Homo sapiens: one gene and its partners. The protein of the gene in region 2 purifies or fractionates together with the protein of the main gene of each other region. This does not show direct contact. Each region holds a gene or a part of one and is shown on either strand. Other genes may lie near its edges. The genes, in order: PC, TSHR and MLF1.

Evidence for each region.
Region 1: the proteins of TSHR (region 2) and PC purify together in Homo sapiens (affinity purification with mass spectrometry; 2 studies listed by BioGRID and IntAct, with this or other methods). This does not show direct contact.
Region 3: the proteins of TSHR (region 2) and MLF1 purify together in Homo sapiens (affinity purification with mass spectrometry; 2 studies listed by BioGRID and IntAct, with this or other methods). This does not show direct contact.

What each region holds. Positions count from the first base shown.
Region 1 is NC_000011.10:66,951,825-66,955,477, reverse strand, and holds part of PC (pyruvate carboxylase, mitochondrial precursor), read left to right. Parts: intron 1-1,041; 5' UTR 1,042-1,229; intron 1,230-3,009; 5' UTR 3,010-3,048; intron 3,049-3,653. UniProt on the Homo sapiens protein: Pyruvate carboxylase catalyzes a 2-step reaction, involving the ATP-dependent carboxylation of the covalently attached biotin in the first step and the transfer of the carboxyl group to pyruvate in the second.
Region 2 is NC_000014.9:81,133,564-81,137,216, forward strand, and holds part of TSHR (thyrotropin receptor isoform 1 precursor), read left to right. Parts: intron 1-3,653. UniProt on the Homo sapiens protein: Receptor for the thyroid-stimulating hormone (TSH) or thyrotropin. Also acts as a receptor for the heterodimeric glycoprotein hormone (GPHA2:GPHB5) or thyrostimulin. The activity of this receptor is mediated by G proteins which activate adenylate cyclase.
Region 3 is NC_000003.12:158,588,041-158,591,693, forward strand, and holds part of MLF1 (myeloid leukemia factor 1), read left to right. Parts: intron 1-811; coding exon of another isoform or gene 812-884; intron 885-3,653. UniProt on the Homo sapiens protein: Involved in lineage commitment of primary hemopoietic progenitors by restricting erythroid formation and enhancing myeloid formation.

The DNA of each region.
Region 1 (3,653 bases), on a different chromosome or scaffold from region 2:
TCGGTTCCCTGTGCCAGTCCTCACCTCCAAGATCTCCCCTAGAAGGTTGTCCCTGGTAGCCCACAGTAGGTCCCCCAGGCCCTTTTCCCTTTTTTGTCCTGCTCCTTGCTTTCACCCGGTCTCACTTCCAGTGCCCCAGGCACTGTGATAGGTACCTGTCCTCCCACCACCACTCATGGGGGCTCTGGGACCAGTGGCAGGGCAGGACCTCAGATTCACTACTCTTATCCCAAGCCACAGTTCCCTGTGTCCCTCTTCCCTCTGTCCTCTCAGTACCTAATAGTGCCAGGAACAAGTAGGTGCCTAATGAGTGTTTTGGGTGAATTAGTTGAAAAGGGGTCAAACTGGGAACCAGTGAGGAGAGAAGGGTGCAAGATGGGGAATACGGAAAGGAGTTACTTTTGGAGGTGGCAGGGATGGCCAGCACCAAGGTCAGTATGGCAGTAAATCTGGCAATCCACATTTCTCACTGGCACCTTCTGCATGGGCTGGAGGCCTCGTTCAGGTCAACGTTTTCTGTGTTTTTTTTTTTTTGGAGACGGAGTCTTGTTTTGTTGCCCAGGCTGCAGTACAGTGGCACCATCTTGGCTCACTGCAGCCTCTGCCTCCCGGATTCAAGTGATTCTCCTGCCTCAGCCTCCTGAGTAGCTGGGATTACAGGCACCAACCCTTTGCCTGGCTAATTTTTGTATCTTTAGTAGAGATGGGGTTTCACTATGTTGGGCAGGCTGGTCTCGAACTCCTGACTTCAGGTGATCACCTGCCTTGGCCTCCCAAAGTGCTGGGATTACAGGCGTGAGCCACTGCACCCGGCCTCTGGTCAACATTTTCATTGAGGATGAGCATGGCCTTCTCTTTGGCTGCCTCCCAATATCGTCCTGCCCCCATCTGAATGGGCCCCGTTTCTTGTATCCTGAAAGTTCCTGCTTTGGGGCAGGTTTCTCACCCAGAGGCCTCCTTCACAGCAGCAGGGCATTTTGCCTGCTCACTCTGAAACCTCACCTGGGCCTGACTGACCGTGCCTTCCTCTCTTTCTCTTAGCTGCCTTCTAGTCTCACCTGTGGACACTTTGCCAAAGGAGTCGGGCCTGACGGTGGAAGATGGGAAATGGCCAAAAGAATAAACCATTTCCTCTTACTTACCGAATGAAAAGCTTGCTTCATCTTGGCGTTCAAGACTCTCTAATATGATTCCACCTGTTGGGCTCTTTCTTCCATTTGCCTCCGCAGGTACCCTCTTCTGTGTCAGCCCCCATAGTGAGATTAGTCACTGTTACCCCAAACTCACTTCTCACGGTCCCCCCTCTGCTCTTGTTCTTGTTGACTTTGTTTTCTGCAGGGCCTTGCTTCTTATCTTGTCCTGTCAAAATTAAATTATTCTTCGAGACACAGGACTTTATTAAGGCTTGCCAAATCTATTCAGTTGGACTGGGCTCTCTTTTCATAACGATGATGATAAGTAATGATTTATTGTTATTAATAATAAAAGTCAACTACTGTGTGGTGGTGACGGCCTTGCTAAGCCCCTTACATACACATAATGTGATTATCACAACAATCCTATTACGAAGGTCCTATTAGATCCATCTCTTACAAATGACGGACTCTCATAGGTGAAACTCAGAGAGGTGAAATAACGCCCAGAGTAACACAGCCAGGCAGGCTAGGTGGCTCACTGCTGGAGTCCCTCTCACGTGCCATCCCATTTTTGCTTCTTTTAACCAGCCCCTAACAACTTGCTTTTTGGCACTTTGTGGGCAGGGCCTGAGTGTACATACAGTTCCTTGTGCAAGGCATGTGCTCAATAAATATTTTATTGACTTGAGTGCCCCAGACATTGAATTTCAGCCTTGACGTTATCTGTCAAGGCAGCTGGTTTTCTCTGAACAGGGATTTGAGCTTGCTGGCCTGTTTTTCCATTTTGCTGTTCATTGACTAGTGGCTAGGGTAGGTGTGGCTTTTTCGGAAATAAGCAGTCAATAAAACTCCGAAAAGTGATTACACAATACCAACTGTGGGCTCCCATGGGCATAAACACGAGGTGGGCTCTTACTTATGGCAGAGAGGGGTCTCTGCAGGAAAGGATTTGAGGAAATAGCCAGGAAATAGAGTACACATCTCAGGTCACGTAAGACAGCTCCTTATTAGTTTCAAGTTGTGGAGTGAGAGAAGAACCAGACTCCCAGTATTCAGAGGGAGCTCCTGAAGGATTAGAGACAGCTCTGCGGAGATGCAGAGAAAGCGGGCCTGAGGCTGGACGGAGTGGGCAGGAAGAGAAAGCACTTCAGATAAAACGAACTGTTTCTAGAACTTCTTGTTCATGTGTAGTGGGTGGCAGAAAAGGGTTTTACTTAAGCGCTTCCCACCTAGCCTGTCGGTTAACGTCCCAGTGTGTCCTCTGTGCCAGGCATGGTGCCACTGCTGTGCGTGTGCTGCCTCATTGGGTATTCCCTAGTACGCTGTGAGATGGGCATTGTTATTATTCCCATTTTACAGATGAGGAAACAGACTTTGAGTGATTACAGAGCGGCTGTCAGAGTAACAAGAGGTGCAGTCCAGGCAGTGGGACAGCACAGCTGGCGCTTCCAGCTCTGTACCCTCCTGGTGCCCTCAGTGGAAGCAAAGAAACAGTTCTTGGCCGGGTGCGGTGGCTCACACCTGTAATCCCAGCACTTTGGGAGGCCGAGGTGGGTGGATCACCTGAGGTCGGGAGTTCGAGACCAGCCTGACCAACATGGAGAAACCCCCATCTCTACTAAAAATACCAAATTAGCTGGGCGTGGTGGCACATGCCTGTAATCCCAACTACCTCAGGAGGCTGAGGCAGGAGAATCGCTTGAATCCGGGAAGCAGAGGTTGCAGTGAGCCGGGATTGCGCCATTGCACTCCAGCCCGGGTAACAAGACTGAAAAAGTTCTCTGGGTTCTAAAATCGGTGTTCTTGCCACTCCTGTTTTCTCTGGGAAGTTCCTGGAGCAATGAGGGTAATGCTGTTTTTTCTTTTGCTTTAGATAGTGTCTGCCTTCTGGAGAGCTGACCAAACACTAAGGGTAAGTCCTGTGCCTGAATCCAGGCTGGCGGGATGCATGGGGGTCTTCACCAGGAGCAGCTGTGGATGCCAGCAGTTTGGCATGTCAGGTCTTAAGCTCAATCAATAAAAAAAGGCTGCGCTCTGATTTGTGGATAATATCCGTTTAAGCAGTCTTGTCTGTTTCCAGTTGCTCCTGATTTTTACAGGAAAGTGACATCTGGCTCCCTGCTGGCCCCATTTGGCAGCTGGCCAGCCTCAGCAGAAGGCCCTGGTTCTGGAAGGGTATGGTCAGCTTGGGAAGCTGGGCAGGAAGAATCCCTGGGGCTGGGCCGTCTCTGAGAAGACCCCTTGAGTCAGCATGGAGAGCAGGCAGCTGTGGTGTGAGGTGGTTCTGCCAGCTGGTTGTAAAGTCACTTGACACGGGTTTCCAGAGGGTGACGCTCAACCTTTGCCAGTCACGGTAACAACGGGGAAAAAGGGACCTGCCCTTCTTCCCCTGCACATTTTACAGGCATGTGCCACCACACCTGGCTAAGTTTTTTTTTTTCTTTTTTTTTTTTGAGACGGAGTCTTGCTCTGTTGCCAGGCTGGAGTGCAGTGGCGCAAGCTCGGCTTACTGCAACC
Region 2 (3,653 bases):
ACTAAGCTGAAGAGGTTGAGAAATCCTAAAACAAAAAAGACATTCACATTCTGGCACTTTAGGGTCTACCAACATAATGGCCAGCTCCCTAAACAATTACCCTAAAGCAAAGTCTGCCAACAGAAAAGCACCCTCTTAAATACGAATGTGTGCAACCAGAGATCTCCAGTCAAAGAATGCTCCTAACATGGAAGATCAAAACCAAGATACACAAATGGCGGGGAAATGAGCCTGGAGAAATCAAAGAAATCACAGAAAAGAGAAAGGAACCTTTAACAAAGCAATAATTAAGGACCTGAGATAAATCTGAGAACACATTTCATCCCTATCACTATAACAATCATGATAATAATAATAAAAATAATAGCTAATATTTATTGAGAACACACTAAGAGCTACTGTTCAACAAACTCAAGACAAGGAAACTGCAGCACACAAAGTTTCAGTGACTGATAGTAAGCACAGAAGCCAGGGTTTAAGTCCAGATAGTGTGAATTTAAAACCCATGTTCCTAAACAAAGGGGTATGCTTTCTCAAATATGCTGGTTTTATTTCATTTTATTTTTTATTCTTTTTTATTTTTTATTTTTAGAAGGAGTTTCGCTCTTGTTGCCCAGGCTGGAGTGCAATGGTGCAATCTCGGCTCACCACGACCTCCACTTCCCGGGTTCAAGCGATTTTCTCCTGCCTCAGCCTCCCGAGTAGCTAGGATTACAGGCATGTGCCACCATGCCCGGCTAATTTTGAATTTTTAGTAGATACTGGTTTCTCCATGTTGGTCAGGCTGGTCTCAAACTCCCAACCTCAGGTGATCCACCCGCCTCAGCCTCCCAAAGTGCTGCGATTACAGATGTGAGCCACCGCACCCAACCAAATACGCTGTTTTTAAAAGGAACAGAACACAAGAAAGTGCTCTTAAAAAATCTATTCAGGTATTTAACAAGTATGTGTTTAGAGTCTTCTGTTGGCTAAACACCAGTCTAGGTACCAAAAATACGGCAATAAACAGAACAGGCAGTATTTCAGCTCTCATGAAGCTAAAATTAAAAATTTAGTAGAAGAGATGGAAGATGCACTCAAGGAATTTTACCAGGCAATTTAATAAAAGTAATAGGAGAAAATTCCAAGAAAAAATGGAGATATGTCTGATGGACCAGGAGGTGCCTTTTCCTCTTATTAAGAATTCCAGAGACAAAACAGATAAAATGAGAATAAGTTATCCCATAAACAATACAAGAAAATTTCCTAGCAGTGAAGAACAAAGGTCTTCAGATTGAAGGGGCCTGTCTTCCCCCAGTGCCCATTATAATAAATGGAAAAAGATTCCTATCAAGGTACACCTTCATGAAATGTCACACCAGGGATAAAGAGAAGGTCTGAGAAGCTTCCAGAAGTAATAACAAGTCAATGACCAAAGAATAAGAATTTGAATGGGGTCATACTTACCAAAAGCATCAATGGGTGCTAGAATATGATAAAGCCTTTAAAATTCTGAAGAAAGGCGATTTGCAACCTTAAATTTTATAGCCAGCTAAAGTACCAATTGAATATAAGGGTAGAAAAAAATAAGGTCATTTTCAGACATGCAAAGACTCAGAAAATATCTCCTTCACACAGCCTAAGAAATTACTTGAAAATGTGCTCTAGGAGAGAAAATCAAGAAAAAAGATGACACAAGATTCAGAAAGAGACTCCCACTGGGGAGAGGGGAAATAGTCTCCTAAGAAGCTTGAACTTCATTCTGTAGATATTAAAGGAGGCATGGATTTCAAGCTGGAAAGCAATATAAGATCTGTGTTTTAGAAAGGACATTCTTTCCTAAGTCTTTCCTAATGTCCTTTAGAAAAAACATTCTTTCCTAAGTTCCTAAAATCAGAATAGTGGAAGATTTCTGAGACCAGTCACAAAGTTTTTGCAAAACTCAGGTGAAATGTAGTTCAGACCTAAACTAAGGTGGTAGCAATGAGAACCATGAAATTGTAGATGTGCAACAGCTGGGCTCACATCTGATTGGGGTGGGGGGTTCTTAGCACAATTTCATGTTGTTGTAAATATTCACGGCATGAACGTAGGGCAAGGGCAAGAGAGACTCCACAAGGACATCGAAGCTTCAAGCCCTGGAAAGTGGTAGATGGAAGACAAGAAATAAAGACATTCCAGTAAGCTTCAAGGCAAGAATCATTCTATTTGAGATATTTTGAGTGGAGAGGCAGTGCTAGATCCATAGAGAAGTACAGAGGAGCTCCTACCTTTCTGTCTGATAGCAACCAGACTGTCTGATTAAAACTGCAGATCACTGCAAGGGTGGTTAAATCAAAAAAGAAAAAAGGCAGTTGTTCCCCCTGCTTGACCCTGAAAGTGCAGAGATAGTGTGGGTGGACTGCACAGGAACACTTAAGGTGCAGCATGCCTAATGGATACTTAGAACGATGACAAGTGAGGATTAAGATGTCTTCAAGTATAATAGATTCTAATTTTGTCTGTAAGTGGCCTTAGAGCTCTGAGATGAGACTACAGAGGTAGTCCAGTGCTAGATCTGCAAGACCTTAAAGGGCATGGTAGGAAGCGTGGATGTTATTCATGGTACGTTGAGAAGTCACTGTAGGCCTTTAGGCAGGAAAGTGACATTACTCAATTCATATGTTATGATTACTCTGGCTACTATGTGAGGAATGGATTGAAAAAGAATAAAAGTGGACAGGAAAGATATTTCAGTAAGAGATAATGTTAGCTTGGACTAGAAAGCTTACACTGGAGATGCAAATACGTGGATTTGAGATTCCTTTGGAGTTCAGAATCATAGGTGTTTTGCAAGATTAAATGTGGATGGGACAATGGTCTTGAGGAAATCCAACATTCCTCAAGGTTACTAATTTGAGCAATCAAGTGGATGAGAGTGTCAATTACCATGTTGGGGGGAAATAGAGGAGGAGCAGGTTGAGCTAAGGGCAAAGGATGAAAAGATAAGTTTTGAAAGGCCCTATTAAGTTGGAGACGCCTGTGAGGCATCCAGGTGGAGATATCAAATAAGCAGTTGGATATACAAGTTGAGGTCTGGACTGGAGCTGTATTTGCCAACTTCATTGCTTTTGGCTTCAGCTCAGATAAACTTCAAATTGGGACAAGGAGGAAATTAACAATTATTGAGCACCTACCATATGCCAAGCACCCACATTTCCCAACATCTACTTTCTCCTTGCCTGCCCAAGCACCCTCCCAGTTCAGCCCGAGTGGGACCTAACTTAGAGGCCACCTGGGATATGTCATTACATATACTCAGACAAACTTTGGAATCTTCCCTCCCAGATTCCTAATGAGTCCATGGAGACTTACTGCACCTGGATCTGTGTTCAAAGACTCCAAAGACCTGAAAGTGAAGACTAGCTCCTGGGACACTGAAGCTGAGAACTCCAGACCCAAATGATACTTATGACTCCACCCTTGGTTCACTGTATCTTTTTGGACACAACATCCCTTATTTCTTTGTCTGAATTTTAGTATCTGCCCGCTTCATAAAAATGCTTTGAGAATTGAAACCAGCTTCTGAATCACCTGGAGAGCATCTTAAATAATGCAGATTCCCAGCCTCCACAAACAGAGATTATAATTCATTTGGTCTGGAATGTGTCTCAATCTGTATTACAGGTGATTCT
Region 3 (3,653 bases), on a different chromosome or scaffold from region 2:
GTCTTAGGTGTTCTCTCACACATGATGGCTTACTTCGGGGAAAGAGCTACCATGATGTAAAGCAGCACTGTGGAGAGGTCCACCTGAATGAGCTTAGAAGCAGATTTTTGAGACTAGCCAATAGCTGTGTGAAGGAACTTGGAAGTGGATTCTCCACCAGTCAAGACTTGAGATGACTAAAGCCTCAACTGATAACTTCATTGCAGCCTACAGAGAGGCCCTGAGTCAGAACTACCCACCTAAACTGCTCCTGATTCCTAATCAACAGAAATTGTGACATAACAAATGTTGTTTTAAGCTGCTAAGTTACAACAGCAATAGATAACTAATACATGTTATGTCAGAATAACACATTGATTGAGACCATCCTGGCTAACACGGTGAAACCCCGTCTCTACTAAGTACAAAAAATTAGCTGGGTGTGGTGGCTGGTGCCTGTAGTCCCAGCTACTCGGGGGGCTGAGGCAGGAGAATGGCGTGAACCCAGGAGGCGGAGCTTGCAGTGAGCCGAGATCGCGCCACTGCACTCCAGCCTGGGCAAGAGAGCGAGACTCCGTCTCAAAAAAAAAAAAAAAAAAAAAAAAGCAGAAAAAAACTGCCCTCATTCTAAGTCATCAGTTTTGTTGCTTTCATCTAAAGACAGGAAAATGAACTACAAATCTACAAAAAGTTTATACGTGTGTTTCTGCATCATAAAAAACAGATATTTATAGATATTCGCAAAATTTTGAGACCACATTCAGGATGGCCTCAATTAAGACATAAGCTTCTATGGCATAAACAAACCTCATTTGAGGATGTTGTTTCTCAGACATACAGGTGGTCTTACTCTGCAGCAGCTGAAACTGAAGCACAAGAAGCCCTTGGAACTATCATCAGGACATGTAAGTCCCATGTACTAAAATACTTGGGCCAGAGAAAACCAAGTATAGTTTAAATAGGAGTTTCCCCTCCCCTAAAATCCAAAGTCACTAAGGAGGAACTTCAAGACTGCAGGCATTGGTTGCAGTGGAGATTTTTCTCTGTGTAGCAAGCACCAAGGTGAGCAGAGCCTTTAATTAAGAATAGTTAGTAATTTTGCCAAGAAATGGTAGGGGGACCATCTGATATATAGGATGGTTCAAATTCCATAAACATTATTTATTTATTTATTTATTTTGAATTTTTGTATTTTTTTTTATTTTATTTTGAGACGGAGTCTCACCCTATTGCCTAGGCTGGAGTGCAATGGCATGATCTTGGCTCATCACAACCTCCACTTCCCGGGTTTAAGTGATTCTCCTGCCTCAGCCTCCAGAGTAGCTGGGATTACAGGCACCTACCACCACACCCAGCTAATTTTTGTACTTTTAGTAGAAACGGGGTTTCACCATGTTGGCCAGGCTCTTCTCAAGCTCTTGACTTCGTGATCCACCCACCTCGGCCTCCCAAAGTGCTGGGATTACAGGCATGAGCCACCGCGCCCAGCCCTCCATAAACATTTATAATGTATACTGTGTGTCAAGCACAGAGGTTGGTAATATGAATGAATAAAGATACAGTTCCTACTCTAGAAGAACTTATACTCTAAAAGAGGAGTGAGACTTTTGTATATTTTAAAATTAAAATTAAAAAACTTGTATTAGTTTCCTATTGCTTCTATAACAAATTACCACATATTTAGAGACTTAAAACAACAAATCATCTTATGGTGGAGATCAGAAGTCCAAAATGGGTTTCCCTGGGCTAAAATCAAGGTGTTGGCAGGGCTACATTCCTTCTGGAGTTTATGGGGGTGAATCTGTTTCCTTGTCTTTTCTAGCGTCTAGATACTGCTGTGTTCCTTGGCTTCTGGCCTCTTCCTCCATTTTTAAAGCCAGCAGTGTAGCATCTTCTGATTATGACACTACTATCTCCTTCTCATAAGGACCCTTGTGATTACATTGGGCCCACTGGGATAATCCAGGATAATCTTCCCATCTCAAAATCCTTATACACATTAGCAAAATGTGGTAAAAACTGAAGACCTAACAAAGATTCATGGTTGTGTGGCTGAATATATTCATGTTAAGAGAATGAAAAAGGCAAGTCCAAGACTGGGAAAAAATTTAAAACCTGTATCTGATAAAAGTCTGTGTCCAGAATATATAAAGAACTCTTATAACCTGATTTTTAAAAATGGGGGAAGTATTTGAAAAGACGGTTCTATCAAAGAACATACATGAATGACAAATAATACAAAATAAAACTACAATGAGATGTTATGACCCTACCACTCAAATGGCTACAGTTAAACATTGACTATCCTATATTTCACCAAGAATGCAGTGCAACTGGAACTCTCAGTTACAGTTTTCATAAAATTTACATACTCTTCTAATACAAGCCATCAGTCCTTGCTCTGAGGTGTTTACTTAAGTCAAATTATGTATACACAAAGACTAGTACATAAATATTCATAGTAGCTTTATTCATAATAGCCAAAAACTAAAAACAGTTTTGTGATTATGATACTGATATATGTATGAACTTAGCAATAAAACTGAATGAACTGAAATAGAGAACAACATGGATGAATCAAAGAAGCATTATGCTAAGGGAAAGAAGCTAGACACAAAAGATGACATACTATGTGATTCCATTATATGAAATCTGGAGAAGACCAAACTATAATGACAGAAAGCCTATTCATGGTAACTAGGGCTAGGAGCAGGTAATTATCTGCAAAGAGACGAGGAAGCTTTTTGGAATGATAGAAATGTTCTACATCTTAATTATGGTGGAGGTTATGACTGCACTTTTTAAAATTCATCAAACTGTACAACAAAATTGGTAAATTTCGTTGAATGTAAATTATGCCTAAACAAGGCTGAATGAAAACATCTGTCTATACATACAAGCACAAATCCAGTTAAGCAGTTTGCTAATCTTAAACTCACACTTGGAACAATTATGCTTTTTTTAACCTCCAAGGTAATGTGTGAATAAATCTGAGCTCTTTTGGAATAGGTTTATGTATACAAATACTATGAAATTCAGAGGAAAAGCTCTTTCTACTTGGACTTATGAGCAGAAGACAGAATTTTTGAGCTTCCTCCTTTGAGCTTCCTCCTTTGAGCTGGAGTTGCAAGGAAAATTTCTTTTTTTTTTTTTTTTTTGAGACAGAGTCTGGCTCTGTCACCCCGTCTGGAGTGCAATGGTGCAATCTTGGCTCACTGCAACTTCTGCCTCCCGGGTTCAAGCAATTCTCCTGCCTCAGCCTCCGGAGTAGCTGGGATTATAGGCGTACGTCACCACACCCGGCTAATTTTTGTATTTTTAGTAGAGATGGGGTTTTACCATGTTGGCCAGGCTGGTCTTGAACTCCCGACCTCAAGCAATCCACCTGACTCAGCCTCCCAAAGTGCGGGGATTACAGGCATGAGGCACCACGCCTGGCCAAGAAAAAATTTTAAAAACTTTCTAGCTTCTTTATGATGACATCAGAGGATTGGAATTAGAAGGGGGAAGGGTGACCTAAGAAGAATAACTGAAGTGGAGAATCTGAAAGGAGGCCAGACTATTGGAGAGGGAGTTCCACTGGGCTGCAGGAAAGCATAAGATTGCCTTGGTAAAGTGAGCTCCAATCATGGTGTACCTTAAGTTCTAGAACGAGGAATAAGGAATTGATTAGT